Linked DNA regions of Homo sapiens. The protein of the gene in region 3 purifies or fractionates together with the protein of the main gene of each other region. This does not show direct contact. Each region holds a gene or a part of one and is shown on either strand. Other genes may lie near its edges. The genes, in order: ANKRD13A, PKLR, LRRC3B, DNPEP and ODR4.

Evidence for each region.
Region 1: the proteins of LRRC3B (region 3) and ANKRD13A purify together in Homo sapiens (affinity purification with mass spectrometry; one large-scale study listed by BioGRID and IntAct). This does not show direct contact.
Region 2: the proteins of LRRC3B (region 3) and PKLR purify together in Homo sapiens (affinity purification with mass spectrometry; one large-scale study listed by BioGRID and IntAct). This does not show direct contact.
Region 4: the proteins of LRRC3B (region 3) and DNPEP purify together in Homo sapiens (affinity purification with mass spectrometry; one large-scale study listed by BioGRID and IntAct). This does not show direct contact.
Region 5: the proteins of LRRC3B (region 3) and ODR4 purify together in Homo sapiens (affinity purification with mass spectrometry; one large-scale study listed by BioGRID and IntAct). This does not show direct contact.

The regions. Positions count from the first base shown.
Region 1 is NC_000012.12:110,001,164-110,007,363, reverse strand, and holds part of ANKRD13A (ankyrin repeat domain-containing protein 13A), read right to left. Parts: intron 1-6,200. UniProt on the Homo sapiens protein: Ubiquitin-binding protein that specifically recognizes and binds 'Lys-63'-linked ubiquitin. Does not bind 'Lys-48'-linked ubiquitin.
Region 2 is NC_000001.11:155,296,373-155,303,360, reverse strand, and holds the start of PKLR (pyruvate kinase PKLR), read left to right. Parts: upstream 1-1,922; 5' UTR 1,923-1,965; coding exon 1,966-2,065; intron 2,066-2,408; exon of another isoform or gene 2,409-2,473; coding exon of another isoform or gene 2,474-2,480; intron 2,481-3,080; coding exon 3,081-3,263; intron 3,264-6,988. UniProt on the Homo sapiens protein: Pyruvate kinase that catalyzes the conversion of phosphoenolpyruvate to pyruvate with the synthesis of ATP, and which plays a key role in glycolysis.
Region 3 is NC_000003.12:26,624,752-26,630,951, reverse strand, and holds part of LRRC3B (leucine-rich repeat-containing protein 3B precursor), read right to left. Parts: exon of another isoform or gene 5,441-6,200; intron 1-5,440.
Region 4 is NC_000002.12:219,374,728-219,380,612, forward strand, and holds part of DNPEP (aspartyl aminopeptidase), read right to left. Parts: intron 296-5,885; coding exon 128-295; intron 1-127.
Region 5 is NC_000001.11:186,391,510-186,397,709, reverse strand, and holds part of ODR4 (protein odr-4 homolog), read right to left. Parts: intron 6,015-6,200; coding exon 5,919-6,014; intron 3,764-5,918; coding exon 3,695-3,763; intron 1-3,694. UniProt on the Homo sapiens protein: May play a role in the trafficking of a subset of G-protein coupled receptors.

The DNA.
Region 1 (6,200 bases), on a different chromosome or scaffold from region 3:
TTAAAGAAGACCTAAATAAATTGAAAAACATCCTTATGCTCATGGTTTAAAAGACAATATTGTTAAAATGACAAAACTCTCCAAACTGAGGTATAGATTCAATTCAACTCCTATCAAAATCTCAGCTGGCTTTTTGCTGACATTGACAAGCTGATCTTAGAATTCATGTGGAAATGCAAGAAACCTAGAATAGCCACCTTGAAGAGAGAGGTCTGAGGACTCACATTTCACGCTTGCCAATTTTAAAACGTACTACACAAAGCTACAGCAATCAAGACAACGTGGTACTGGCATAAGGACAGACATACAGGTCAATGGAATACAATTTAGAGTCCAGAAATAAACCCACACATTTATGGTCAATTGATTTTCAACAAGGGTGCCAAAATAATTCATTGGGAAAGAACTGTCCTTTCAACAAGTGCCGCTTGAACAACTGCATATCTACATGCAAAAGAACAAAATTTTGGCTGAGCTCATTGGCTCATCCCTATAATCCCAGCACTTTGGGAGGCCAAGGCGGGAGGATCACCTGAGGTAGGGAGTTCGAGATCAGCCTGATCAACATGGAGAAACTCCATCTCTACTAAAAATACAAAATTAGCCAGGCATGGTGGCGCATGCCTGTAATCCCAGCTACTCGGGAGGCTGAGGCAGGAAAATTGCTTGAACCTGGGAGGCGGAGGTTGTGGTAAGCCGAGATCACACCATTGCACTCCAGCCTAGGCAACAAGAGCGAAACTCCATCTCAAAAAAAAAAAGACAACCCATGGAATGGGAGAAAATATTTGCAAATCACATACTGATAAGGGCCTACTATCCAGAATATGCAAAGAACCTTTACAACTCAACAAGTCAAATAACTCAATTTTTAAATGGGCAAAGGATTTGAGATGACATTTCTCCAAGGAAGATACACAAATTGCCAATAAGCACATGAAAAGATGCTCAACATCATTAATCATAAGAGAAATGCGAATCAAAACCACAATGAGATGCCACTTCACACCCACTAGGATGCGTACAAACAAAACAACAGATAATACCAAGTGTTGACAAGGATGTGAAGAAACTGGAATCTCATACACTGCTGGTGGAAATGTAAAATAGTGCAGCCACTTCGAAAAATTGCTGGCAGTTCCGCAAAAAGTTAAAACATAGAGTAACTACATGACCCAGCAATTCCTCTCCAAGGTATATACCCAAGATAAATGAAAACATATACCCATACAAAAACTTATACATGGGGCTGGGTGCAGTGGCTCATGCCTGTAATCCCAGAACTTTGGGAGGCCAAGGTGGGCTGATCACTTGAGGTCAGGAGTTCAAGACCAGCCTGGCCAACATGGTGAAACCCCATCTCTACTAAAAATACAAAAATTAGCCAGGCGTGGTGGTGCACACCTGTAATCCCAGCTACTAGGGAGGCTGAGACAGGAGAATCGCTTAAACCCAGGAGGCAGAGGTTGCAGAGAGCTGAGATCATGCCACTGCACTCCAGCCTGGGCAACAAAGCAAGCTGTCTCAAAAAAAAGGAAACCCACAAAAACATATACACAAATACACACAGCAGCGTTACTCATAATAGCCAAAAAGTGGCGACAACCCAAATGTCCATCAACTGACAAACGGAGAAACATTTTCGTCTAACAAACAAAACATAGTACATCCATGCAATGGAATATATTCAGTGATAAAAAGGAATTAAGCACCTGAAACATGCCACAACGTAGATGAACCTCCAAAACATTATGCTAAGTAAAAGAAGAAACAAAAGGCCACATATGATTCTATTTATATGAAATGTCCAGAATAGGCAAATCTAGAGACAGGAAGTAGGTTAGCAGGTTGCCTGGGCTGGAGGGGTTGGGGAGAAATGAGGAGTGACTACTACAGGTATGGGGTTTCTTTTTCGGGTGAGGAAAATATTACAGGGTGGGTGCAGTGGCTAACACCTGTAATCTTAGCACTTTGGCAGGCCAAGGCAGGAGGACTGCTTGAGCCCAGTCTGGGCAACATAGGGACACATTTTCTCTACAAAAAAATCTTTAAAAATTAGCCAAGCGTGGTAGTGCTTGCTTGCAGTCCTAGCTATTTGGGAGGCTGAGGTGGGAGGATTGCTTAAGCCGAGAAGGTCAAGGGTGCAGTGAGCTGTGATGGTGCCAGCCTAGGCAAGAGAGTGAGACCCTGTCTCAAAAACAACAAAAAAACAAAAAAGAAAGAAAAAGAAAAAAATTTCTGAAATTTGACAGTAGTGATAGTTGCATAACTCAGCAGATATACTAAAAACCATTGAATAACCTTTAAATGTAGATTATATAAGTGAACTATATCGCAATAAAAATCTTTTGAAAAAATCAATCTGTATATGTTTATACATAATACATAAAACGAATCTCTCATGTACTGTTTGACAAGTTGCTTAATTCCTCCTGAGCTTCAGTTTGCTCGCTTGTAAAACTGAACAATAAAAAAAACCTACCTTACAGTTCTTACAAGGGGAAAGTCCTTAACTTAGCACGGTGCTTGACACCACAGTAAGTGCTGAGAAGAGTTACCTGTTATTATCATACGCCCACACTATGTAGTTTCATATAGCTGTCACTTTCTCCCTAAAAGGGATTTGCTCAAATTGCATTACAGTTATTAGTGGGGCTTAGAATCTTCAACTAATAATATGAGTTCAGAGAACAAGGAGTTTCAGAATTTAGCTGGAATTCACTTTTTCTTTTGAGACAGAGTCTCCCTCTTGTTGCCCAGGCTGGAGTGCAATGGTGCAATCTTAGCTCACCGAGATCTTGGCTCACTGCAACCTCTGCCTCCCAGGTTCAAGCAATTCTCCTGCCTCAGCCTCCCGGGTAGCTGGGATTACAGGCATGCACCACCACGCCTGGCTAATTTTGTATTTTTAGTAGAGACGGGGTTTCTCTGTGTTGGTCAGGTTGGTCTCGAACTCCCGACCTCAGGTGATCCGCCCACCTCGGCCTCCCAAAGTGCTGGGATTACAGGCCTGAGCCACCACGCCCGGCTGGAATTCACTTTCGAAACTGATCATTTAGGTTTTCCTTTTAAGTTTCTTTAGCCATGAGCTATACCCAAATAAAAATACCCATCCTCCTTTAACTAGGAGTTTCCTTCCTATTTGCTCATTTCAGCTCATCCACTTTTCTTGCTCAAAAGCCTTAAAAAAAATTTATTTTTTTTTTGAGATGGAGTCTCATACTGTTGCCGGGCCTAGAGTGCAATGGTGCGATTTTGGCTCACTGCAACCTCCGCCTCCCAGGTTCAAGCGATTCTCCCACCTCAGCCTCCCAAGTAGCTGGGATTACAAGCACCCGCCACCATGCCCAGCTAATTTTTCATATTTTTAGCAAAGATGGGGTTTCACTATGTTGGCCAGGCTAGTCTTGAACTCCTGACCTCATGATCCACCTGCCTTGGCCTCCCAAAGAGCTGGGAGTACAGGCGTGAGCCACCGTGCCCAGCCAAAAAAAATTTTTTTTTAAGGAGACGGAGTCTTACTATATTGGCCAGGCTGGTCTTGAACTCCTGTCCTCAAGCACTGACCCCACCTCAGCCTCCTCAATCAAAAGCCCTCTTTACTATCTTGCCATCCTCCTGCCGAGCTCTGAGGCCAGGCTGCAGAACCAGACAACTGGACACCCCTTCCAGCTTGCCCACTAGCCTCAGGTGAATTATCAGTTCCCCTGTGCCTTGGTACCTGGCATGCAGGAAGTGCTTCATAAACTCACTGTCACCTTTAGGGGGACTCCAGCAAGAGGCTGCTGGCTAGTCCTCCTCTCTCTCAACACAGACAACCACCCTCACTCCTCTTCACTCTCAGACCATCCTGGTCCTGTGTGGCCCCCACGCTGAGTCAGTGGAAACAGGAATCTTGAGGCCAGTTTCCTAAGGTGAGCTTGAACCCCCGATGACCAAGGGGGCACATGAGGAGAGCAGGCTCTAGGCTCTTCATCTTGGATGCCTAGCCCATGGCTCAGCGATTTGAATCTGTGCCCGGGGCCTCACCTGGCCTGCCCCAGGCTGGAGTGAGAACCCCAGGAATGTCCTCCTCTTACCTAGGTGCTATACTTTTCACCTGCTGGCTTCCTAAACAGGGAGCCTGGCTCTAGAGTCAGGCCTCATTTGCCACCCTCCACCTCACACAACCCAGGTTTTCCAACCCTGTCTAAGGTACACTGACTCACCTTTGCATCTGTCCCCTTAAGTGTTCATGTCTCACCATCAGTAAGAAGGCCAAAGAAGTTTAACAGACTTCTTTAGCTAAGCGGCCAACGACATAAGCAGAACACAAACAGTTTCAACTTCAGCAACCAACTTCAAGGCCCCACTGAATATTAATGAGCTGATGGGTTAAGAGGCACTTTATTAAATGCCTCTGCTGATCAAATGAAGGCCTGAAACAATCTGGTAGTTGGCATAGTTACACAACTGCCTGCTATTAGTGAGACAGTGGGATTGGGGCTGGCTCACACACACAGAAACACGTGCTTATCCTCTTCATCTGGATAAACTTGATTCTTTCTTGTGTTGCTGTTCCTGGAACAGGAACAAAAAACCTGGAAAAAAATTCTTACAGCTATCAGTATACATGCTCCAAGTCTCAATCAGGTGATAGACGGAATGAGGAAACTGACAGCAGAAACTCACCAGCAAACAAAACATTAAGGGAAACAGCCACTTTATTGCTGGGGTGATAAGAATTTTTTGGGTTTTTTTTGTTTTTTGAGTCGGAGCCTCGCTCTGTCTCCCAGCCTGGAGTGCAGTGGCACGATCTTGGCTCACTGCAACCTCAGCCTCCTGGATTCAAGCGATTCTCCTGCCTCAACCTCCTGAGTAGCTGGGATTACAAGCACGTGCCACCACATCCAGCTATTTTTGTATTTTTAGTAGAGACGGGGTTTCACCGTGTTGGTCAGGCTGGTCTCCAACTCCTGACCTCAGGCGATCTGCCTGCCTCAGCCTCCCAAAGTGCTGAGATTCCAGGCATGAGCCACCGTGCCCGGACTTAAGAATTTTTTGTTTTTAATTATGCAATCAATACATCTTCCTTGCAGAAAAACTGGAATATAGAGCAAAAAAGCTCAATCCCCAGGTTTACAAATGATGATTATAATAGCAGCAGCTACTAGTAAATATTGTTTCCAATTACCATATGCCTGCACTTTCAGGTCCATTATCTTCCTTATTTATTCTCCATAATCTTGAAATGAAGTCATTTTTACTGAAAGAAGTATAGTAGGGGTTAAGAATACAGGATTTGGGCAAGGCACAGTGGCTCATGCCTGTAATCCCAGCACTTTGGGAGGCTGAGGCGGGCAGATCACTTGAGTACAAGAGTTCAAGACCAGCCTGGGCACCAAAAGAAGTAGATTCCTAAAAACCAAAACTGGTCATTTTTAAAGTGTCCTAGCTGAGTCTTACAGTTTTTACCTCTGTACCATGTCTAGTAATAGAAAAGGAATTAAATGATCAGTATACTAAAATGCCTAATGGTGAATCATTTAGTCTGAGGGCATGTGTCATATCTCCTTAACTCTTAAATAGTTGGTCTGTCATCTAATTAAGAACGATGACTCTCACAAAAGTTTATCGTATCTGGAATTCTTTTTAAATGAAAAAAGGCCGGCAACAGTGGCTCATGCCTGTAATCCCAGCACTTTGGGAGGTAGAGGTGGGCGGATTGCTTGAGGCCAGGGGTTGAAACCAGCATGGCCAACATGACAAAATACCACCTCCACTAAAAATACAAAAATTAGCCTGTAATCCCAGCTACTGAGGAGGCTGAGGCAGGAGAATCGCTGGAACCCGGGAGGCGAAGGTTGCAGTGACCTGAGATCGCGCCACTGCACTCAAGTCTGAATGACAGAGCGAGACTCCATCTCAAAAAGAAAAAAAAAAAAAAAGAAACAGAAAAGAAAAGAGGGTAATTTTGGACTTCGGTGAGGGCTCAACCACCTTAAATATGGCAGGTTGCAAGCACACAGCTTGCAGCACCCATTCACCAAATGGAGTAATGCTAACCTTCTCAATTTTTGTCAACCATAAGACAAACAATCCTCCTCTTCCTCTACAATTTCTTGACAATTATAGCACCAATTTTGAGCCATTCAAAAACCAGGTCTGTAAGACACTGGATAAAATGTATGAAGTCAACAAGAACAACCATACTAGATTTC
Region 2 (6,988 bases), on a different chromosome or scaffold from region 3:
TGCTATGATGATGATGATGCTATCAAAGCCCTTCCAGAGAATCCCACCAGTTAGTATCAGCTGAACCCACAGCTAGTGTCACACCAAAAGTGGCATCAGGGCAGCACTCACAAAGGATGCCCCAAACCATCCCAAGATGGGGCTGGTTGGGATTCCAGTGAATGAAGCACTAAATGCCAGGGCAATCAGGCCAAAGCATACATTAGGGGAACTTACCTACAGAACAGCTACTGCACATCCTTGCTGTGGACAATGGGACAAAGGGTGTTCTACCCAGGTATGTTCTCAAGGAGGGGTTCGGGGTATGGTGTTTATAGGAGTGTTTAAGAAATTTGAAGCCAGTACTATGGCTCACACTTGTAATCCTGGCATTTTGGGAGACCAAGGCAGGAGGACCACTTGAGCATAGGTGTTCAAGACCAACCTGGGCAACAGAGTGACACCAGTCTCTACAAAAATAAAAAGTCAGCACCTGTGGAAAGAAAGGAAAAAAATATTTTTAATAAATAAAAATTTAAAAAGTAGCCAGGCATGGTGGTGCACACCTGTAGTACTGGCTACTTGGGAGGCTGAGGTGGGAGGATCGTTGGAGCCCAGGAAGTCAAGGCTACAGTGAGCCATGATCACACGAGTGCACTCCAGCCAGGGTGACAGAGTGAGACCCTTTAAAAAAAAAAGAAAGAAAACAAGGCTGGGCATGATGGCTCACACCTGTAATCCCACCAGTTTGAGAGGCCGAGGCTGGTGGATACTTGAGGCCAGGAGTTGGAGACCAGCCTGGACAACATGGTGAAACCCCATCTTTACTAAAAATACAAAAATTAGGCCAGGCACAGTGGCTCACACCTGTAATCCCAGCACTTTGGGAAGCTGTGGCGGGCAGATCACCTGAGGTCAGGAGTTCGAGACCAGCCTGACCAACATGGTGAAACCCCGTCTCTACTAAAAATACAAAAATTAGCCAGGCGTGGTGGTGCATGCCTGTAATCCCAGCTACTCAGGAGGCTGAGACAGGATAATCGCTTGAACCCAGGAGGCAGAAGTTGCAGTGAGCCAAGATCACGCCACTGCACTCCAACCTGGGCAACAGAGTCAGACTCAGTCTCAAAAAAAAAAAAAAAAAGAAAAGAAAAGAAAAAAGAAAAACAAAATTAGCTGGGTGTGGTGGTGCACGTCTGTAATCCCAGCTACTCGGTAGGCTGAGGCAGGAGGATCGCAGAGGTTGCAATGAACTGAGATTGCGCCACTGCACTCCAGCCTGGGCGACAGAGTGAGACTCTGTGAAAAAAAAAAGAAAAAAAAGAAAAAAGAAAAAGAAAAAAGGAAGGAAGGGAGGGAGGAAAGAAAATTTCCCTGGGGGTAGGAGTCTATAAGTTTAGCAAAATAGTCGATCTTTCAGTGTTTCCAGCAACAACCTAATCAAGTTTATCAGTGTCTGAGAATGTTCAAGGTACCATCTTGGGTTCAAACATGTAGGCGAAAACATGCAGCTGGCCAGGTTACAGAGTGGTGAAGGCACTCTGCATTTCTTGGTTGAGACAGAGAAAAAAAGTGGTCAGAACTGGGTAACCCTCCCCCCACCATATTATCACAGTGATCCCTTTTGTCTTTCTTCAGGCTCCAGCCCCACCCTACAGCCCCTGCTCCCTGGATTCACTAGAGCTAACTTCAGTAAAGTACAAAGAAAATGGGGCCATATGACTGGCCAAAAAAAAAATATCTATTCACGTGGATGACCAGATAGTATGAATGGATTGAAAATTTATCAGGAAAAAAGGATGAGAGGAAATGCCAGGAGATGAGGGCAGAGAGCAGGCCGTTCTGGGGGAGGGATTCTGTGGGGACAGGGTGGCCTACTGGGTGTGCCCCTTTTCTCTTCTCTGTCTCCCTTAGATAAGACCAGCAGTTTTGTCATCCTCTCCCTCTCATTCCATGGTCCCGCAGCCCCAGGCCCACACTGAAAGCATGTCGATCCAGGAGAACATATCATCCCTGCAGCTTCGGTCATGGGTCTCTAAGTCCCAAAGAGACTTAGCAAAGTCCATCCTGATTGGGGCTCCAGGAGGTAAGAAGGGGAGACAGAAGCCATGGAACATAGGAGGAAAATGAGGGTGAAAACTAGGAGCCAGGGTGGAGGGCATAAATGATCCACATCAGCCACTGGCTAGGTGGGTTTTGGAGAGGAACGTACGTTCTTCAGAGCCTCCCGTGTGTTAAATTATGGACCCTGGCCTGGGTCTTTTCCAGGCCCTATAGGCAGGCCAGAGCCACAGCATGTAAGCCACGGGGCACTCCCGTGGTTCCTGGACTCTGGCCCCTGGCATACAGGGCTTCCAATGGAACAGGAGACAGTGGTGACACTTTAACCAGTCTGCAGAACTGATCCCCAGCCCAGCTGGGCCTCATGCCTCTGACAACCCAACAGTGTGGAGCAGACCCACAGAGAGGGAGACCCAGAGAGGTGTGCAGTGGCATGGAAGGTGCGGCTGGAATCGGGGGCTCCTCTGAACTGGGATGGGTCAAGCTACAGGGACCTCTGTGTCTGTAGCAGCTTTGAGAAGCCTGGGGAGACTCAGAGGATGGGGTGGGGAAGCCAGCCAGTAGCCAGGGGTTGGAAGGGAGAAAACAGAGACCTTTGGAGCAGGAACTGGGTGATTCTGGGTCTGCATAGGGTGAGGCTGCTGGGGACTAGACATCAAGGGGTGGTGGGGTTGAGGGTCATCAGTAGCTGCAGGTCGGGGGGTCCTGGGTTGTGCGGGGTCAGTATAACTGAGTGGTCAAGAACTTGGGCTAGAGTTAGTCAGACCTAGATTTGAATCCTAGCTGATCCATACTTAGAAGCTGTATAATATTGGACCATTTATTTCCTGTTTCTCAGCCTCTGTTTCTTTATCCATAAAATTGGATAATTATAGAACATTTAACAGTACCTGCTTTATAGGATCCTTGTGACATAATAAAATAATATATGCATGATGCCCAGCTCATAAGAAGGGAAGGAACAGAGGGTATGCTGAGAGACGAAGGCATGGGGAGGAAGGGCAGGTGACATGCAGTCCCTGAGCCCCCTTCTACCACAGGGCCAGCGGGGTATCTGCGGCGGGCCAGTGTGGCCCAACTGACCCAGGAGCTGGGCACTGCCTTCTTCCAGCAGCAGCAGCTGCCAGCTGCTATGGCAGACACCTTCCTGGAACACCTCTGCCTACTGGACATTGACTCCGAGCCCGTGGCTGCTCGCAGTACCAGCATCATTGCCACCATCGGTAAGCACTCCCATCCCCCTGCAGCCACACAGGGCCTATTGGTATTTCTTGAGGTGCTTCTTCATCTTTTGTCTCCTTTGAGACTTCTCCATGTTTGACACAGTCATTCATTTAACAAAAATTTGTTGAGCATATAGTAGACAAGATTTTGGGCCCTGGGAGTAGATCAGTGAAAAAAACAGACAAAAATCCCTACCCTTGGGGAGCTGACAGTCTAGCTGAGTATGACAATAAATAGTAAGCACAATAAATTATTTAAAATAAGTAAATTATTTATTCCGTTAGAAAGTGAGGCCGGGCATGGTGGCTCATGCCTGTAATCGCAGCATGTTGGGAGGCCCAGGTGGGCAGATCACTTGAGGTCAGGAGTTCGAGACTAGCCTGACCAACATGGAGAAACCCCGTCTCTACTAAAAATACAAAATTAGCCGGGCATGGTGGTGCGTGCCTGCAATCCCAGCTACTCAGGAGGCTGAGGCAGGAGAATCGCTTGAACCCAGGAGGCGGAGACTGTGGTGAGCCGAGATCACACCATTGCATTCCAGCCTGGGCAACAGGAGAAAAACTCCATCTCACAAAAAAAAAAAAAAAAAAAAAAAAAAAAAAGTGGGCTGGGCTCAGTGGCTCATGCCTGTAATCCCAGCACTTTAGGAGGCCAAGGTTGGCAGATCGCTTGAGCCCAGGAGTTTGAGACCAGTCTGGGTAAATGGCAAAACCCATCTCTACAAAAAATACAAAACTTAGTTGAGTGTGGTGGTGCATGCCTGTAGTCCCAGCTACTCAGGAGGCTGAGGTGGGAGGATCACTTAAGCCCAGGAGGTCACGGCTGCAGTGAGTCATGATCGAGCCACTGTACTCCAGCCTAGGTGACAGACGAGACCCTAGAGAGAAAGAGAGAAAGAAAGAAAGAAGGAAAGAAAGAAAGAAAGAGAGAGAGAAAGAAGGAAGGAAGGAAGGAGGGAGGGAGGGAGGGAAGGAAGGAAGGAAAGAAAGCAAGCAGGCAAGAAAGAAAGAAAGAAAAGAAAGAAGGAAGGAAGGAAGGAAGGAAAGAAAGAAAGAAAGAGAAAGAAAGAAAGAAAGAAAGAAAGAAAGAAAGAAAGAAAGAAAGAAAGAAAGAAAGAAAGAAAGAAAGAAAGAAAGAAAGGAGTGAAAGTTGGCCGGGCATGGTGGCTCTTGCCTATAATCCCAGCACTTTGGGAGGCTGAGGCAGGTGGATCACCTGAGGTCAGGGGTCCGAGACCAGCCTGGCTAATGTGGTGAAACTCTGTTTCTACTAAAAATACAAAAAATTAGCCAGGCATGGTGGCATGTGCCTATAATCCCAGCTACTCGGGAGGCTGAGGCAGGGGAATCGCTTGAACCCGGGAGACAGAGATTGCAGTGAGCCAAGATCACGCCATTGCACTCCAGTTTGGGCAACAAGAGCGAAACTCTGTTTGTTTGTTTGTTTGTTTTTAAAAAAAGAAAAAAAAGCTGGGCGCGGTGGCTCACGCCTGTAATCCCAGCACTTTGGGAGGCCGAGGCGGGCGGATCACCTGAGGTCAGGAGTTCGAGACCAGCCTCAACATGGAGAAACCCCGTCTCTACTAAAAATACAAAAAATTATCCGGGCATGGTGGTGCATGCCTGTAATCCCAGCTACTCAGGAGGCTAAGGCAGGAGAATTGCTTGAACCTGGGAGGCGGAGGTTGCGGTGAGCCAAGATCGTGCCATTGCACCCCAGCCTGGGCAACAAGAGCGAAACTCCGTCTCAAAAAAAAAAAAGGCCAGGCGTGGTGTTTCATGCCTGTAATCCCAGCACTTTGGGAGGCCGAGGCAGACTGATCACGAGGTCAAGAGATCGATACCATCCTGGCCAACATGGTGAAACCCCGTCTCTAATAAAAATACAAAAATTAGCTGGGCGTGGTGGCACATGCCTGTAGTCCCAGCTACTCGGAAGGCTGAGGCAGGAGAATCACTTGAACTGGAAGGCAGGGAGCAGAGATCGCACCTCTGTCCTCCAGCCTGGTGACAGAGCGAGATTCCATCTAAAAAAAAAAGAAAAGAAAAGAAAGAAAAAGTGAAAGTTTTAAGTGCTATGGGGAAAGAAATCAAGTGTGATAAGGGCATCAGGAGTACGAGGGTGAAGACAGGTTGCAGCCCTAAATAGGGAGGTCAGTTATTATTGAGTAAATGAGACCAAAGGGAAGACTTGAAGGAGATGAGAGAATTAGCCATGCAGAGACCTGGGGGAAGAGAATTCCAGGAAGAAGGATCAGTCAGTGTCAAGGCCTAAGTCAAGAAGGTTAGAAGAGCTAGAAACCATCAAGGGGGAAGAGCGGCAGACATGAAGAGACTGTGTACGGACAGGAAGATCAGGTGCAGCTTTGTAGGCCATTTTTAGAATTTGAGTTGCGTTTTCCTCCGAGTGAAATGAGAAACTGCTGCAGGGTTTTGAGCAGGGGAATGACAAGCTCTTATTTATGTTTTAATAGAGCCTCCCCTCCCCTGCTGCTGCACTGAAAATAGATGGGGGGTGGGGGGAAGGGTGCCCCTGCAGTATTTCTGGCTCAGACCAGTTGGCGGCAGTGAGGTGGTGAGAAGTGGTCAGATTCTGAATGTATTTTGCAGGTAGAGCTGACAGGATTTGCTAATTGATCGGATATGGGGTATGGAGTGTGGGCGAGAAAGAAAGGAGTCAAAGGTGACAGGTGACTCTGAGGTTTTTGCCATAAGGAACTGGAACGATGCATTAGCCACTGAGCAGGAAAGACTGTGGTGGAAGGGGTTGGGGGGAGAGCAGAAGTTTGCTTGGGACATGTTGAGTCTGAGATGCTTATTAGCCATCCAAATGTGATAGAGGGGGCAGTCAGGTACACAACTCTGGGTTTGGGAGAAAGGTCTGGATTGGAGAGACATTTGGGAGTTGGCTACATATAGATGGTATCTCAAGCCATGAGACTAGTTGAGACCACCAAAGGAGTGTAGGTGAAATGACGGAGAAGAGAACAGGGTATCTAACGTTAAGGGGAGGAACAAGGAAAGGAGACTGGGAAAGAGCAGCTAGTGAGGTAGGAGTCAACCAAGAGAGGGTGCAGCCCTGGAGGTCAGGTGAAGACAGTGTGTCAAAGAAGGATGTATGTTCAGGCTGCTGATGGGCCAATAGAGGAGGACTGAGCATTGAGCATTACATGGAGCAAAAACACAGAGGTTCTTGGTGACCTTGACAAGAACAGATGCAGTGGAGAGATGGAGGCCAACGCCTGAGTGGGGTGGGTTCAAGGGAGAATGGGGGAGGGGAACTAGAGGTAGCAAGTACAGATAACTCTTGCGATGAGTTTTGCTGCAAGTGAGAGCAAATACTGGGACTGAGGGGAAACCAGGAGATTAAGAGAATTTTTTTTTAATGATGAAAGAAATAACAGTAGGTTTACCTGCGGATGGGGATGATCCAGTAAAAAAGGAAAACATGGCTGGGCACGGTGACTCACACCTGTAATCCCAGCATTTTGGGAGGGCGAGGTGGATGGATCACCTGAGGTCAAGAGTTCAAGACCAACCTGGCCAGCATGGTGAAACCCCTTCTCTACTAAAAATACAAAAAAATTAGCCAGGCGTGGTGGTGCACACCTGTAATCCCAGCTACTCAGGAGGCTGAAGCAGGATAATCACTTGAACTGGGGAGGCAGAGGTTGCAGTGAGCTGAGATGGTGCCACTGCACTCCAGCCTGGGCGACAAGAGT
Region 3 (6,200 bases):
CCAGAGAGCTAAAGCAGCTGTATTACCATTTGCCCGGGCCTGTCCTGATTTATACCTACTGTCTTGGAAAAACAACTGAGAGCCCTTTCATTCTCCAAAGTGTCCCAGTGGGAAATGATAAATTTTATGGTTACCATTGTCTGCAGTTCTTGGGGTTAGAGACCTCCAAGGCATCTACCAATAGAATTCAAGGCATCCACCAATAGAATTCAAGGCATCCATGAACTTGCATGGAAAAAAAAGTCGCAACTTTGTTTGTGAAGCTTAAATGGCAATGTACCATCTCATTCCCATTTGAACACAGGCCATAAACCTCAATAGTAGCCATACTAGTGATTATGTCACCAATATAAATATTTTCATATCACAATACAGCTGCCACAGTTATCTCATAGTAGCATTTATGCCCATTCCTACTTCGAAACAATAGTAGCCACTAGTCCCACTACAAGATCTTGTTATAGAGGCATTATTATGTAAGAGGCACATATATTAGTAACAGTGGTTTCTTTTATAAGTCGATAAACAGATATTTCAATAAAATTGGTTTGTGCTATAATCTTATGTATTATATTTTATGCATTTAAACACCATTCCAGGGCCCGCAGGCTTTGTCAGACTGTCAAAGGGCACTATGGAGTAAATCAGAGTAGAAGACCTTGGCCTGGAGATTGATAAAGCCACATTAATGTGGCACTCTGATATGTGAGAAAGAGACCTTGCCCTCTGGCTGGGGAGCTAGGCTGCCTTTGAACTGATCTATGCTATGAGGTATTATTTAGTACATTCCTCTTCCTTATAAGCCCTCTTCTTTCAGTCTTTATTACTCCCATTCTCTTTTTTTTGTCTTCTCTTATTCTTATGGGATTTTTTTTTCCCCTTATCCTTTGGTTTAGGTTTACTATCAGATATCTCTTAGTCTTACTGTGCTAAGTATTGGGTTCTCTTCCTTTGGATAGATTTTTTTTTTTTTTTTTTTTGCCATGCTTCTCTTACACCTCTTTCTCTCCTGCCCCCACCTTTCCCACCTTTCTCTGCTGTTGTCTGCTGCCAATTGCTTGGCCCTCCTGACTTGGCTGGCCACACACCATACCCCTTTCACAGGTTTTGTAGCAGAAACATTGGGTATCAACAGTCCACAGTACATCTTCCCTTTGGGAATCATTTTCAGTTTACTAACAGACACTGTTTCTGAGCCACAGTTAAAATAACAAACTAGCCACCCCAATAAAAAACCACACAACACATAGCAGCAGGAAAATAAAAACTTTGAAACCCTAAGCTTAAATATAATTGTGGAAAGGGTGAAAAGTATTCCACTTAATAATCCCTGATGGCCAGACATCTAGAGAAGATCAGCAGCCTGGACCAGGACTCTTCTCAGTGTATAAATTCCCAGTGCAGCATAGGGAAAGCATACTGCTTAGTCACCGCTAACAGGGGGAGCCCTCTGTAGCAGGCCTATACAATGATTATTTCTCCAAATCAGAGCTCAGGTTAGAAGACTCAGGGGAAAGCCATGAGACCTCATGACCTTTGTGCTTTAGCTTTAGAGAACTATGCACTGTGCCTTCAGCACTGTCCTCGCCAGAGGACGTATTTGTCCTGAAATATTATAGCAGTCTCTCCCAGTAAGTTACTGAATACTTCTTCTATCAATGACCTAAAATTGGAAGGAAGAAGGGAAGAAAGGAAGAAAGGAAGGAAGGGAGGAAGAGTGGGAGGGAGTGAGGGAGGGAAGGAAGGAAGGACGCAGGGAGGGAGGGGGAGGGGTAGAGGAGGAAAAGAGAATAAAAGGAAACTAATCTGTATTTGAAAACATACTTACCACTTTGTCAAATATTACTCCATGGTTGAGAATAGCTTCACATTTTTAAATAATATTTGTTTCCATTTTATTTCTAATAAAAGGCACCTAAAGCATTTTTTAAACTGTCTGAAAAGGTAGTGACATTTGCACTGGACAAGTATTAACATAAAAGGTAGCTTAGAGAGCTTAGGATCAAATGAAACTGTAAATTTCATAACCTTTCCTAATCTGTTCATTTATCCTCCTAAAGAATAAAATCTGTTTTTATTTGTGGAGGATTTTTTTTTTTTTTTTTTAGTATTTACTCATTTATCTATTTTGAAAGAACTAAATGGCCCTTACTATTAACTTACCACCTGTGGTGGAGAAATAGTATGTTCAAGCCTATCAGCTTTTGAGAAGATTCCAGATTTCATTCTCATATGAAATGGCCATTTCATATGTCATTATCATGTTGAGATGTATTAATTCACTAAGTTTTTATAAAGTATATGTAGATATATACTAACATCTCAGAGCTTCCATCATGGCTCCAAACCATTTATCAAATAAAGTTCATCAAAGTCACAATCTTCAGATAATAAAATGAATACAAAATTTATTAATCTTATGGATTATTCAAATCTAAATATAGATTAAGATATTTTATATTTTTTTAAATAAAATCAATAAGGGTAAAGCTTCTCAGGTCCTACTCTGAGCTTTTTTTTTTTTTTTTCCAGTATCTTCTTCAAACTCTTTCTACAGAACCTTATTATTTAGCTTCTCTTGCTATTAAAATTAATCAAGATCAGATATTCCGAATCTTGATTATTTTTTTTCAAATATCTTACCCAAGACTTTTAACTCATACTATGTATTGTATAAACATATCTATTCATTGTGTTCTGAATAAAAGTTTTTATTTTTCCATATCCTTTGTCTTAGAGCATATTGCTTAATAATAATTGTTATTCTAAATGTCAATGAACTCATATTTATATGATTTAAGATAAAGGTACACCCCAAAGAATCTCCCCAGCAGACGTGTCATGTGGGACTTTTGATATTGCACCACCTAGCAGCCACAGTAAAATAAGTAGAGGGGATTGGACCACATAAGTAAGATGAGGATAGAGCTCCCCTGAATAAACTGGGAATTGGAAACCAGAATGTCTGCCCAGGTTCCAAAGGATTCCCCTTCCTGTGGTTCCTAGGACATAGACCATTTCTTTTGGATATTGTCACACTTAACTTCAGTGTTATGTCTCTTTTCTTTAACACTGCTGCAACTCAACTAAGCCGGTATCCCCACCTCCAGAAGGTCACCCTTCTGGATGATCTGGTTTTGAATGGCTCTTCCTGAAGAGTGGGGCAGCTGTGCAAGTTTTTCCTACTTGCATAAAAACAAAATTGACTTCTAATGAATTCTCCGGAAAATGAATGCTTCTCCTTGAGATAACTGGGGTCTTGGGGATTCAGAACAGTCAACCTGACACAAAACGCAGACTGAGGTCGAGGGTAGGAAAAAAAGGAAGAGGAGGAGCAGCTCTTAGTGCACGTTGGCTCTCTGTGGGCATTTTGGTCACACTTGGGTGCCTCAGCAGCCAAGCCTCACCTCCATCTTCCTCCACCTCATCCCTCCTCTGACAATATTGTTGCCTCACTCTCTTCTTTTCTTCCTCCACTATAGGATGGCCTAGGTCCTCACTATAGGATGGCCTAGGTCCTAGTGTGCCACAGCATTAGAGATGGAAATCCTATTCCAGGTGACCTAAAAGGCACCAGGTTTCCACTATCTGTCTATGACTCTTGCCCCGCTGATCTGATTCTGAAAAACAGGATTCTTCTATCCCTCCTCCCTGTTTACCCTGGCTGACTTTTTGTTGGTTTGTCTCCAAGGGGAGGACATCCTGGTACTACAGCTACAGAGAAAAGACATGAGGTGTTCTTGGAAACTAGAACTTTGTCCCACAAAAACGCTTAAAGGTATATGAAATCCTCAAGTGACTGCAGAAAGTCCCCTTTGTTGAAGGGGCCAGGTAGGCGAGGAAGTGGCAAATATTATCGGAAGTGACAAAGAACTATTTTTCCTCTTTCTGAGCCCCAAGTACAGAAATATATTGTTTTGCCTCAGCTTTACATCAGCATAAACTTTAATGAAAAGTCAAGAATCCAGGAGAAATCCAAGAATTTATGCCACTGTATTCAAAAGAATGTTTCCTGTGATAGGAAAAATTCCCTGTTATTTTCACAAATACCTGGGAGTGCAGAAGGATGAAGCAACTCAATCTAACAGAAGACTGCTAAAATCATTAGAAATCATTTAATCTTATTTAGAATCATCCAGAGGTTTGCATAGTTAATTTTTGTTGATTTGAAGGCTTACAAATATTCTGCAATGTTTTATTTTTGCAAAAAGAGTCACATTTGTGGTAGCTTATTCATTATATATGATATAGAGTTTTTCTGGTTATGCTGATTGAGAAGCATTTATACGAAAATAAGCAAAACAGTCTTTTTAAAAATAAAAAGCCTTTTCCTAATTAATTTTAAGATGTTAAAAAAACAGCAGGAGTGAGCATAATTTATTTATGTATAATGGTACCATATTTGAGCAAGGGTCAAAAGGCAGTGGTTCCAGCATTAGTTATGCTACAAATGCACCAAATGGCCTTGAGCTCAGCATTGAATCTCCTCCCTGAGTCTGGATTGGGTGGGATAATATCTGAGATCCCTCTTAGCTCTAACTAATTATGTGACTCAATTCAGAGAGAGGCTTTCATTTGCAGAATACAACTGCTACATAAAACTGCCTCTAGTTTTTGACTACAGAGCAAATCTCTGTTCATATTTGGATCCCTCCTTCCATTTACCTTCCTATTTAAAAAGGGAATGTCTACAAAAGGTTCAGAAGAGAAGTCCATTACCAGTAGCCAGTTCTCCAAATCGATTTCCTCTACTAGTATTCCACTATACCAAGGTGTACCCCAACAAACTTTGAGACAGGCGATATGTAACATCAGTCTCCCTAATACTCTAGTCACAGGGGCTCACAGGCCAGGACTGGCACTTATAGTACGCCGCTGCAGTTTGGAGTAAAGGGTGAGGGGCCTCACTCATGCTTCCTTCCAGACAAATGGTTTTTAGTACCAAATAGGGCTGGGAGTATGGGACACACTCAGTGTTCTCTGATCACCAGACCACTCAGCCCCACCATTTCCTGGCTGAATGTCAATAAGCAAATAACTTGAATTCTTCAATACTGGGTTTCTCCATCTATAACATGAGATAAATAACTCTACCCATTTTTCAGGGTTGTTGTGAGGGTTAAATCTAACACAAACACACACAACATCAAAGATAGTGTCTGGCACATAGTAAGAACTCCACAACTGCTAGCTAGCACTGATTGTTACATTACTATTTGTCTCCCCAGAACAGTTCAGCAACCTGAAATAAATCCACCTTGGTGTGGATTTGGAGTCTTTCCTCAAGTTGCCAAGGAACATGGTCTAATTTGTTTCTACATGCAAAAAGAAGTGGCCAGAGCGCAAATTCAGGCGATAGATAAGCACCCAGAAAGAAATGAGCCTTGGGGGGGTCAGAGCTAAATCTCGTGGAGTGCGAGTTTCAAGTCTAGGATCCTACCTCAGGTATCCAGGTACTTCTGAAGAAGCCCGGCTCTCTCACCAGGCCTGGTCTGTGAGGGTGTGGCCTTTGTGCTCAGGAGCTGCACCAGGAGCCTGCGCACAGGGAATCCCCGTTCTGCTCCTTGGGGCTCTGGAGTTTGCCACCGCTAGGCAGGGAGCTAGCTGCTCCAGGGGTGCCCCAGAATGGGAGGGACTGACCTCGGGATTTCTCCCGGGAGCCCTGGCGAGTCGACGTTTCCTCCGATGTGGCCAAGGCGAGGGACCCAGAAAAAGGAACTGCTCTGAATTTTGCTTTTTCCCAACTGGTACAAGGCAGCAGGAGTCCTCTGTAGGGCACCCGCGGAGAAAGTAAGAAAAGCCTGCACGTGGAAGGTCTGAACAGGGAGGACCTAAAGGTTGTACAGGGTTCCAAACCCACCCAACCTCCAAATGTTTCCCTATAGGGCTACTAGGAACCAGGGATCCACTCTCAGCCAAAGGCACCTCTGGGAGAGGAGCATGCACCTCCTCAGGGAGAGAAGGGTTAAGTGAGGTGCTTACTGGCCTTGGCAGTCACTGTGCCCCCACCAGGAAATAGGGGGCTTGATGGATAAAAGGGAGGGGAGGCTGCCTCTTCGAAACAGCCGACTAAGCCCCCTCCCGCAAACGGTCTTGCACTCCAGATTGCTGGGGTGCAAAGGAGAAAAGAGCCTCCCCCTCCTGCATTCGCCAGAGCATCTGGAGCCACAAGAAGAATCTACCTGGGAGCTGCAAGGTGG
Region 4 (5,885 bases), on a different chromosome or scaffold from region 3:
CAGCATGACAACCAGCCCCCATTACTCAGGCCAGTCACTTTGTGATGGCGATGTTGTCCCAGCAACCAATCCAGGCACTAGAGGGGAAGCAGCCCAGCTGCCAGAGAGGGTCTGGGGTGGGTGTTACCTTGAAGAGGGTGAGGGTCTGGAGGACTCCTGTGGTGCAGGCCATCTCCCGGATAGAGTGCATGGCCAGTTGGGGGCTGCCTAAATCCAGCACCCGCAGCCCCAGCCGAGAAGCCAAGATAGGTCCAATGGTGGTTCCACAGGGGGTGTCATTCCGGACCATGAGATCCTAGGGAGAGCAGGAGACCCATGAGCAACATGCAGTGTGTGCTTATCAGAGCCAAGGAGGACGCCATCTTAGAATTGCAGGGTGGGAAGGGGCCTGGGAGATGGTCCATTCGGAGCATAAAATCAAAGCCAATGCTAAATGGCAGACCCCAAAGGACAATATATTCTGAATTGGTCCCATTCTATCTGCATTGCCACCACCCTAGTTCCAATCCATTCTCCACACAGCAGGAAGGGGGATTTTTAAAAGTATCCATCCTTGTCACCCTCTTGCTTAATATCCACACTCACAGAAAAAAATCACTCAGTGGTATCAGTGTCTTTAAAAATATTGCTACTGACATTTTGAAATGATTTTCTTTATATTATGGTAAAAAAATAAGAAAATGAAAATATGATGCTAGATATCAAGGTTTTCAGTGTAAGAGAAAACAGAATTACAAAATCAAATAGGTAGTAACTATTTAACTAAATAAGAATAATTTTATGAATAAGAATTACAGTATTAACTCATGATTTTTATTTAAAAATTTTTATTTTATTTTATTTATTTATTTTGAGATGGAGTCTCCCTGCGATGCCCAGGCTGGAGTGCAGTGGCGCAATCTCAGCTCGCTGCAACCTCTGCCTCCTGGGTTCAAGCGATTCTCCTGTCTCAGCCTCCCAAGTAGCTGGGATTACAGGCACGCACCACCACGTTCAGCTAATTATTGTATTTTCAGTAGAGACGAGATTTTGCCATATTGGCCAGGCTGTTCTCGAACTTCTGACTTCAAGTGATCCACTACCTCTCAAAGTGCTGGGATTACAGGCCTGAGCTACCACACCTGGCTTCATGATTTTTAAAATATGTACTTTTTTCTTGCTATGTCCATGGAAATGGACCCAAAGCACCGTCCCCTCCCCCAAGAACAATGAACACTTGCAGTGCCAGGCTATGGTCTCTAATACCACTGCTTGCCAAAAACTACCAAGTCTGGGGGGCGAAATGAACAAGACATGTCTACAATTTTTGTTGTGCCAAAAAGCAAGGAGACTTCCAAGAGTCAAAGGGCACAGGAGTTATGCTGAAGGGGCTCCCACTGGTCAAAGCCATGGCAATTCACAAATCAAATATAATAATTATAGAGGACACTGAATAAATGAAATTCCATGATTCTAAGATAGTCAGAAAGGGAAAAGCAGGCCAGGTGTGCTGGCTCACGCCTGTAATCCCAGCACTTTGGGAGGCCAAGGTGTGCAGATCACATGATTCCAGGAGTTCAAGACCAGCCTGGCCAACATGGTGAAACCCTGTATCTATTAAAAATACAAGAAACAGCCGGGCATGGTGGTGCATGCCTGTAATCCCAGCTACTCAGGTGGCTGAGGTATGAGACTCTCTTGCACCTGTGGGGAGGAGGTTGCAGTGAGCTGAGATTGCGACACTACACTCCAGCCTGGGCAACAGAGCGAGACCCTGTCTAAAAAAAAAAAAAGAAAAAGAAAAAAAAAGGAAAAGGAAAAATCTTTCTTTGTCACTATTTGAGACGACATTTCACCTTGAAAAGTGGATAACAGAAAGAATTAGCATTTATCCTGCTTTCCAATCAATAGGAATGATATTCCATGATAACCAAAGAACCCTAGTTGATTGGAGGGAAGAAGTTCCACTTCACAGAAGAATGGAAGACTGAAAGAATTCAGGGGAAGCGGGCATTTTTCGGTAAATTCTAATGAAATTACTGATTTAGACAAGGATTATTGTAAGTGTTAAAACCATTAGGTATCTGGTTAATAGGGAACTCATCACTTGTATGGGTCACTGTCAGGTCAATAGGGGAAAAGCACTATATAATGAAAGGATAAGAGGCCATTCCTGGTCCAGTGGTCAATCTTTGCAAGGCTAAGGGTGGCCCACCCAGATATCATGTGTGTGATGCCATATGAATACACCAGCCATGTCTTCTAGCCCAAAATGTTTAACTTGAGGCTAGGCACGGTGGCTCACACCTGTAATCCCAGCACTTTGGGAGGCTGAGGTGGGCGGACCACTTGAGGTCAGGAGTTCAAGACCAGTCTGGCCAATATGGTGAAACCCTGTCTCTACTAAAAATACAAAAATTAGCTGGGCATCGTGGTGCACACTTGTAATCCCAGCTACTTTGGAGGCTGAGACAGAAGGATCACTTGAACCAGGGAGGCGGAGGTTGCAATGAGCCGAGATCACGCCATTAGACTCCAGCCTGGGCGACAGAGTGAAACTCTCACTCTGTCAAAAAAAAAAAAAAAAAAAAAAAAAAAAGTTTAACTTGAATCCATCAAGTCTTTAGAAATTCCAGTTGATAGGAAATACGGGGCTTACAGACAAGCTAAATGACACCATGGGGCAGCAAGGAGACATATCCAGAAGTTTCTTGAATAAGCCAATGCTATTTAAAAAGGGGTGGGGGGAACTGTGCTACACTGGAAGACATTTAAGCAACATATCAGCCAAATATAACGCATTGTCCTGAGTTGGATACTAGGGTGGGCCAAATACCTGTAAAAAAAATATTTTGAGGATAACTGGGGAAAACGGAAAGTGATCTGTGCATTAGATGAGGTACAAGTTTACTGAAACAACAATTTCCTGAAATGGGGTTGGGAATGGTGGCTCATGCCTGTAATCCTAGCACTTTGGGAGGCCAAGGTGGGAGGACTGCTTGAAGCCAGGAGTTCAAGACCAGCCTGGGCAACATAGCAAGAACCCCATTTTTACTAAAAATAGAAAATTAGCCAGCATGGTGGCATGCATCTGTAGTCCCAGCTACTTGGGAGACTGAGGCAGGAAGATCTTCTGAGCTCAGGAGTTTGAGGGTGCAGTGAGCTATGATCATGCCACTGCACTCCAGCCTGGGAGACAAAGCAAGACCCTGTTTCTAATTTTAAAAAAACATTAAAAAAAAAAACCAAACTCAAATAGAAAGGTGAAGATGACTGAGTGAAAAGAGGCAACAAAAATATATCCAATATAATATCATTTTAAAAAAGTGTATATGAAGTTTATGCATAGAAAAAAATCTGGAAGACTATACCAAATTTCTGCAGATTAGTGTTTTATTTTCTCATCTCTATCTGTATTTTCTAATTTTCTAAAATACATGTGTCCTACTTCTGCTGTAAATTATTAAAGAAAAATCTCCCAATGTCTTCTCACTGCCTTAGAATAAAATTGAAATGTCCTTCCATGGCCTAGGTATTCCTGTATCATCACTGAGCTGGGCCTCTCCCCTAACCCTCTCCTGCTCTCATCCTGGCTCTACCATCCTGCCTTTCTCTCCTCCTAAAAGACGAGCTCATTCCTGGCCCCCCTTGGGGCCTTTCTACTTGTGCCCTCTGGCTGGGACCCTCCCATAGCTGCCTATTTCTCAGTGGTTAGGTCTCAGCTCAAATATCACGTCCTCAGAGAAGGCTTCCTGGGGGCAGAACAATTCAGCTTTCCGAAAGGAAGAGTGAACACTGTGCAGCAGAAAGAGCCCTGGGCTGGGAGTCAGGATACCACGGTTCTACACCTGCTATGATTGTCACTGGACCGCCCATGCCTGAGTCCCTGATATAGAGAGGTAGACAGATAAATATAGAAATAGACAGTCATGCACTACATGGTGACATTTCAGTCAAAGATAGACTACATATGACAGTGGTCCCGTAAGATTATAATGGAGCTGAAAAATTCCTGTCGCCTAGTGACATCACAGCTGTTGCGATGTTGTGGCATAATGCATGACTCACTTGTTTGTGGCGATGCCGGCGTAAATAAATCTACTGCCAGTCGTATAAAAGCATAACACGTGCAATTATGTACAGTATGCAATACCTAAGAATAATAAATGACTATGTTATGGTTTATGTGTTTACTATATTATGCTTTTTATTGTTATTTATTTATTTTGAGATGGAGTTTCACTCTTGTCGCCCAGGCTGGAGTGCAATGGCACCATCTTGGCTCCCTGCAACCTCTGCCTCTTGGGTTCAAGCGATTCTCCTGTCTCAGCCTCCTGAGTAGCTGGGATTACAGGCGCACACCACCATGCCCAGATAATTTTTGTATTTTCAGTAGAGACGGGGTTTCACCATGTTGGCCAGCTGGTTTTGAACTCCTGACCTCAAGTGATCCACCCGCCTCGGCCTCCCAAAGTGCTGGGATTACAGGCATGAGCCACGATGCCCAGCCTACTGTTATTTTAGAATGTACTCCTACTTATTAGAAAAAAAAAAAAAAGTTAACTGTAAAACAGCCTCAGGCAGGTCCTTTAGGAGCACATTGTTATCATGGTAGATAGCAGCTCCCTGCATGTCACTCTCCCTGAAGACCTTCCAGTGAGACAAGATGTGGAGGTGGAAGACAGGGACATTGATAATCCTGACCCTGTATAGGCCTAGGCTAATGTGTATGTTTGTGTCTTGGTTTTTAACCAAAAAGTTTAAAAATTTTAAAAATAACGAAAAATTTTAAAAATAGAAAAAAGCTTACAGAATAAGGATACAAAAAAGAAAATACTTTTGAATAGCTGTACTATGTGTTTGTGTTTTAAGCCAACTGTTGTTACAAAGGAGTCAAAAATTTTAAAAATGGAAGGTTATAAAGTAAAAAAGTTGGCCGGGTGCAGTGGCTCACACCTGTAATCCCAACACTTTGGGAGGCCGAGGCGGGCGGATCACAAGGTCAGGAGTTCGAGACCAGCCTGACCAACATGGTGAAACCCCGTCTCTACTAAAAATACAAAAATTAGCCAGGCATGGTGGTGCGTGCCTGTAATCCCAGCTATTCAGGAGGCTGAGGCAGAATCGCTTGAACCTGGGAGGCAGAGGTTGCAGTGAGCCGAGATCGTGCCACTGCACTCCAGCCTGGGTGACAGAGTGAGACTCCATCTCAAAAATAAATAAATAAATAAATAAATAAATAAAGTTAAAAAGTTACAGTAAACTAATTTATTGTTGAAGAAATACAATTTTCAAAATAAATGTAGTGTAGCCTAAGTGTCCGGCATTGATAAAGTCTGCAATAGTGTACAGTAATGTCCTAGGCCTTCACATTAACTCACCACTCACCCAGGGCAACTTCGAGTGCCGTAAGCTCCATTCCTAAGTGCCCTATACAGGTGGACCATTTTAAATCTTTTATACCATATGCTTCCTGTAACTTTTCTTTTTCTTTTCTTTTTTTTTTTTTTTTGGTTTTGTTTTTTTGGAGACAGGGTCTCACTCTGTCGCCCAGGCTGGAGTGCAATGGCACGATCTCGGCTCACTGCAACGTCCACCTCCCGGGCTCAAGAGATCCTTCCCAAGTAGGGAAGGCCTCCCAAGTAGCTGGGACTACAGGCATGCACCACTCCGCCTGCCTAATTTTTGTATTTTTTGGTAGGATGGGGTTTCACCATGTTGGCCAGGCTGGTTTTGAACTCCTGACCTCAAGTGATCTGCCTGTCTTGGCCTCCCAAAATGCTGGGATTACAGGTGTGAGCCAACACGCCTGGCCTTCTGTACCTTTTCTATGTTTAGATACACTGACCATTTTGTTACAGTTACCTACAGTTTTCAGCACAGTAAGAAGCCGTACAGGTTTGTAG
Region 5 (6,200 bases), on a different chromosome or scaffold from region 3:
ATCAAAATAGTTAAAGTACTACAGGTTGAGCATCCCTAATCTAAAAATCCTGAATGCTCCAAAATCCAAAACTTATTGAGCACCAATGTGATGTTCAAAGGAAAAGGTAATTGGAGCATATAAGATTTTAGATTTTTGGCTTAGAGATGCTCAACTGGTATGTATTCTGCAAATATTACAAAATCTAAAAAAAATCCCAAACCCAAAACACTTCTGGTCCTAAGCATTTCAAATAAGGCACACTCAACCTGTAATAGAGGCCTATAATAACAGTGGAAACAAAAAATAATGATTTACAAAAAATAACCAAAAAATGGAAATGGTAAGGAAGTAATTTATGTTCTAAGAACACTTGGAGTATAAGTCATTCAACAACCAAATCAATTCTGAAGAACAAAAGTCAAATCATACAACTTGTGAAAAGTGCTTTGTGCCTATGTGCTTATGCAATCAGGAATAAATGCGGAAAAATAATGAAGAGGAGAATACTGACATGCATAGCTATTGAAAGAGCATTATTGATGTCTAGTGTAATTCAAGCAATGTCTAAGGCAATGTAAATCTTCTAGGTGTTGTTAAACAATTTAAACTTTAAGATGGTCAAGGACTTGTTGACAAAAAATTTGCCACAGACCACACAGCTCCAAAGGTCCTGGGTCCATTCAAAAATGGCTATCATCAAACCAAGCAGCAGTGTGACGATGCTGATACAATGTCTGGAATAAGCTTCCATATGACACATGTAGAGTTCATTGATACATCAATAAGGTGGGGTTGGAGGAGGAGTAACAGGCTTCCCCTATCTACTCCATAACTTTTTATTGTAGACAAAACTACTCTAAAAAGAATGTCCTATTTTACATATTTAACATATAATTTATATATTTTTAACATATAACACATTTATATATTAGTATATGTAAATATATGTGTATGTGTGTATATACATATATCTATCTATCTATCTATCTATCTATCTATCTATCTATAATTATGGCATTGTTATCCAAAACAGACTAGACTATTAAAGACTATACACACACATATTAAAGAAAAGAGGTATTTTTTTGGTTGGTTGGTTAGTTTTATTTTGTTTTGTTTGAGGCAGGGTCTTGTTCTGTCATCCAGCCTAGAGTACAGTGATGCTATCAGAGCTCACTGCAGCCTCAAGCTCCTAGGCTCAATCGATCCTCCCACCTTCGCCTCCCAAGTAGCTGGGACTACAGGCACACACCATCACCCCCAGCTAATTTTTGTATTTTTTTGTAGAGACAGGGTTTCACTTGTTGCTCAGACTCATCTTGAACTCCTAGGCTCAAGCGATCACCCTGCCTAGGCCTCCCAAAGTGCTGGGATTACAGGCATGAGCTACCATGCTCAGCCAGGAAAAGTTTTAAAGAATGTAAGGTCTGACTCATTCCTTTTAGGTGGAAATGTAGACCAGTTGGGGTCTACAAATGTAAACTCCTCTTGGTTATTTGGACTTAGGAATAACCTGGCTGCCAAACAGCCTATAGGTGAGGGAACTTCTATGATGCTGACATGGCATTTGAAAAAGAGAAGATCCCCATTTCTATGGGAACCAAATGAAATCTTACACAAGTAGTGGCATTTGGGCTAGATCTTAATGTACAGATAGGATTTTGACAGTTTGGGTGACAGAGAAAAGAGCAAAGACATGATACATAGTTCAGGAAATACAGAGCTTTAAAGGTATGGCAAGCATACATCTAGAAAATAAGAGGTAGAAAATAAGAACAAAAAGGTATGCTGAGGCTATGAAGAACCCTGAGTTGGACTTCTCTAACTAGTCAGTACAGAACACTTAAGAAATTTTGAGCAAGGAGTACCATAATCAGTGTCCGGCTGTTGTACAAACTCAATAAATACTTCTTGAAAAAAATTAATAACTGAACATAAACTATGATTCAGAAATGATCATCTGAGTGTATAAACAGGATAGAGTAGATAAATGGAAAGTATTTCAAGAGATATACTAACAAAGGTAGAAGGGATTTAGAGAAACAATCACTTTGGACAAGAATGTATAGATGAAGAGAGACCAGTTAAGGGCTACTTGTGCTAGTTTAGGTAAAATAATACTGTTGTAAGGCTAATGACAGCAGGACTGTATGGAAAATAAAAGAAAAGCTTAATACTACAAATAAGGAATCAATAAGACTTAACTGGGAGAAAAGTGGCAATAAATACTTACTGACTACTTACTGTATATTAGTCACTTCAAAATTTCCAGTTAGGTGATCGGTGGAGTGACTACCAAAAATATATTATACTATATAATATTATTACTACACCTGGCCAGGCGCGGTGGCTCACGCCTGTAATCCCAGCACTTTGGGAGGCCGAGGCAGGCGGATCATATGGTCAGGAGATTGAGACCACCCTGGCTAACACAGTGAAACCCGTCTCTACTAAAAATACAAAAAATTAGCCAGGTGTGGTGGCAGGCGCCTGTAGTCCCAGCTACTCAGGAGGCTGAGGCAGGAGAATGGCGTGAACCCAGGAGGCAGAGCTTGCAGTGAGCCGAGATCGCACCACTGCACTCCAGCCTGGGAGACAGAGCGAGACTCCGTCTCAAAAATAACAATAATATTACTACTACAATAAATTATCTCATGAGATTATCTTCCACTCATCTCTCTATATTCCCACACTCTATACATCTCCCAACTACAATTTTATACTACTAATAAAATAATCTTAACCAAATTGTTTAATAAACCATGAAGTAAGCCTAACTAGTGAAAAGCACATAAGTAGTGGAATAGCCAGCCTCAAAACAAAGGACACTTCTAAAATCAAGACAAAGTAGAAAATCAGAGACTAAAATACCTCTAAGGTATTGAAAAATGAAATTGAGAACTCACATTGAGTGGCATAGGCCCAAAGACAATTTACTAATGCGCTATTGCTACACACAGAAAAAGAAGAAACTAAAACATCCTCAAATGCCAAATTGCTTTTAATTCTATTCTATTCAGTTCAAAAAAACACAAGTCCTGAGAGTATTTCTGTTTCAAAATCCAGTATAATATTGAAATAAAGTTTCCTACAAACACGCGTTTGCTATTTTATACCCTTGTCTGTTCTTTAGGATAATTTCAAGTAGGATTAAAATCAAAGGTATGTATTTTTAGGAATAATTAGTGGCTTTAACTTTTTATTCTTTAAGATATCCAACTTTTAAATTTTCGAAAAGACGTGTAAATTAAAGCAACCATACATAAATATAAAACTTGCTAATTAATACTTTGTGATTTTTATCAAATCAGGGGGTATAAATCTAATTAATCTACTTCAAAATAAGCATATGACAACTCTTTGCACCTCTGTGTACACATCTTTTAAGTTGTTAAAATTGCAACTTTAACTATAAAAGCTACAACCCAAAATATGTACACATACATACATGTATATGTATGCATGTATGTGTACATATTTTTTTAAACTGCTATCTATTGATGTTAAAATTTTAATATCCTTGAGGCAAAAAACCCAAACAGGTTTTATTAAAATGATGTTTCTTGGGAATAACCTTCCTATAACCAGCCATTTCATACAGTCTCTTACAGCTCTAAAATCCTTTTATTCTCTAATGAGAAAAATAAAAACAGAAACAGTTTCATTATGGTTATGCTAATAAATATTTTAAGTGTTATTTTAAAATATTTACCAACTGCGTTAGCACTCTGACATCAAAAGAATGACTAGTTGCTTGAGTATTTCCTCTAGAAGATTTTTTCTGAAAAAACACAAAAGTTAAAAAGCCAAACTGTGAAGCCTGTAAAACATAAAAGACAACTTATAAACTATTGTACATATACTAAGTAACTTAGAAAAAAACAAGTCTTTTAATTATTTTAATTTAGCTTTTTATATAGATATTACTTTATGTATTCTGTATCAATGTACACTCTTTAAAACAATTAATTCCATACTTTCATTCCTCTAAAGCAACAACTGGCAAACCACTGCCTGTGGGCAAATACCCACATTGCCACTCATCTTTGTAAATAAAGTTTTACCGGTATGCAACCAGGATCATTCACTTATGTATCTCCTGTAGCTGCTTTCATGCTACACAGTAGAGATAAAAATACAGCCTGTGAAATCTAAATATGTAGTATTTTTCTCTTCACATAAAGTTTGCTGATCCCTGCTTTAAAAAGTGAGAGATCACAAAAGTTCCGCTTCCTTCAGGTCAAAGCTATTTTAGAAGCCTCTATAAACCTCTTTTATAAAATGGCCATAGCTTTTGAACTGTCATCAGGGCAGAACAACATGTGGCCTTTGGTTGCAGGTCAGCAGTTTACAATTTGGAAATCAGATGAAATTCAGATGACACTCCTGTAAAGTTTCAGGATTCCAATTACATCATTTTCTTTTTTTTCCTGGACTTATTTTTTAACTTTTAAGTTCATGAGTACATGTGCAGATTTGTTACACAGATAAACTTCAGTCATGGGGGTTTGATATACGGATTATTTCATCACCCAGGTATTAAACCTAGTACCCATTATTTATTTTTCCTGATCCTCTCCTTCTCCCTCCTTTTAGTGTGTGTTTTTCCCCTCTATGTGTCCATGTGTTTTCATCATTTGGCTCCCACTTATAAGTCAGAACATACGGTATTTGGTTTTCTGTTCCTCTGTTAGTTTTCTTCTTTTCCTTTTCTTTTATTTTGAAATGGAGTCTTACTCTGTAGCCAAAGGCTGGAGTGCAGTGGCACGATCTCGGCTCAATGCAACCTCCACCTCCCAGGTTCAAGCCATTCTTCTGCCTCAGCACCCCGAGTAGCTTGTGCTTACAGGCACCTGCCACCACACCCGGCTAATTTTTGTTATTTTTAGTAGAGACAGGGTTTCACCATGCTGACCAGGCTGGTCTTGAACTCCTGACCTCAAGTGATCTGCCCACCTTGGCCCCTCAAAGTGCTGGGATTACAGGCATGAGCCACCACGCCTGGCCCCTGCCTCCCAAGTAGCTGCAATTACAGGCACCTGCCACCAATGCCCAGCTAACTTTTGTATTTTTAGTAGACACAGGGTTTCACCATGTTGACCAGGCTGGTCTCAAACTCCTGACCTCAAGTGACCCACCCACCTCGGCCCCCCAAAGTGCTGGGATTACAGACATGAGCCACCATGCCTGGCCCCTGCATTCGTTTTCTAAGGATAAAGGCCTCCAGCTCCATCCATGTTCCTGCAAAGGACATGATCTCGTTCTGTTTTAATGGCTGCACAGTATTCCATGGTGTATATGTACCACATTTTCATTATCTAGTCTGTCATTGATGGGCATTTAGGTTGATTCCATGTCTTTGCTATTGTGAATAGTGCTGCAATGAACATAATGCATGCATGTGTCTTTACAATAAAACAATTTATATTCCTTTGAGGGTATAGCCAGTAATAGGATTGCTGGGTCAAATGGTATCTCTGTTTTTAGGTCTTTGAGGAATCAACACACTGCCTTCCACAATGGTTGAACTTATTTATACTCCCACCAACGGTTTATAAGCATTCCTTTTTCTCTGCAGCCTTGCCAGCATCTGTTATTTTTTGACTTTTTAATAACAGCGATTCTGACTGGTGTGAGATGGTATCTCATTGTGGTTTTCATTTGTGTTTCTCTACCGATAGTAATGCTGAGTTTTTTTTCATACGATTCTTGGCTGCATGTATGTCTTCTTTTGAAAAGTGTCTGTTCATATCCTCTGCCTACTTTTTAATGAGGTTGTTTTTCTAAGAAAAACATTTGCCTTTTACTTTAAATCAGAAATCAGAAATGAGAGGTAGATGAAATCAGTTTTCTTGTAGGCAAGGACTAAAAATAAGTCATGTTTTATTTTTCCTTAAGCACTAACAATTTAATAAGATGATTTTCTCTTAACTTACCTGTCCTTCTAATAGGTCACAATCTTCATCTTTAACTTGTCCATTAATCAAATAAACACCATTTTCTATTTCCTTGGCCCAGCGTGTAAGTCCATTCTTAACAGAAACACAACATGGAAATCTTTCAGATACAATGCCATCTCAATTAAACTTCCTATAATCTACTTTGTTCCACCTAATAAATTGAAATATTAAAATCCCTAAATCTCATTACTGCAGCATTTAAATCTAGTTTCACAAATTAAAAAAAAGTATACCCCCATTCTTGATACCTTATTATAT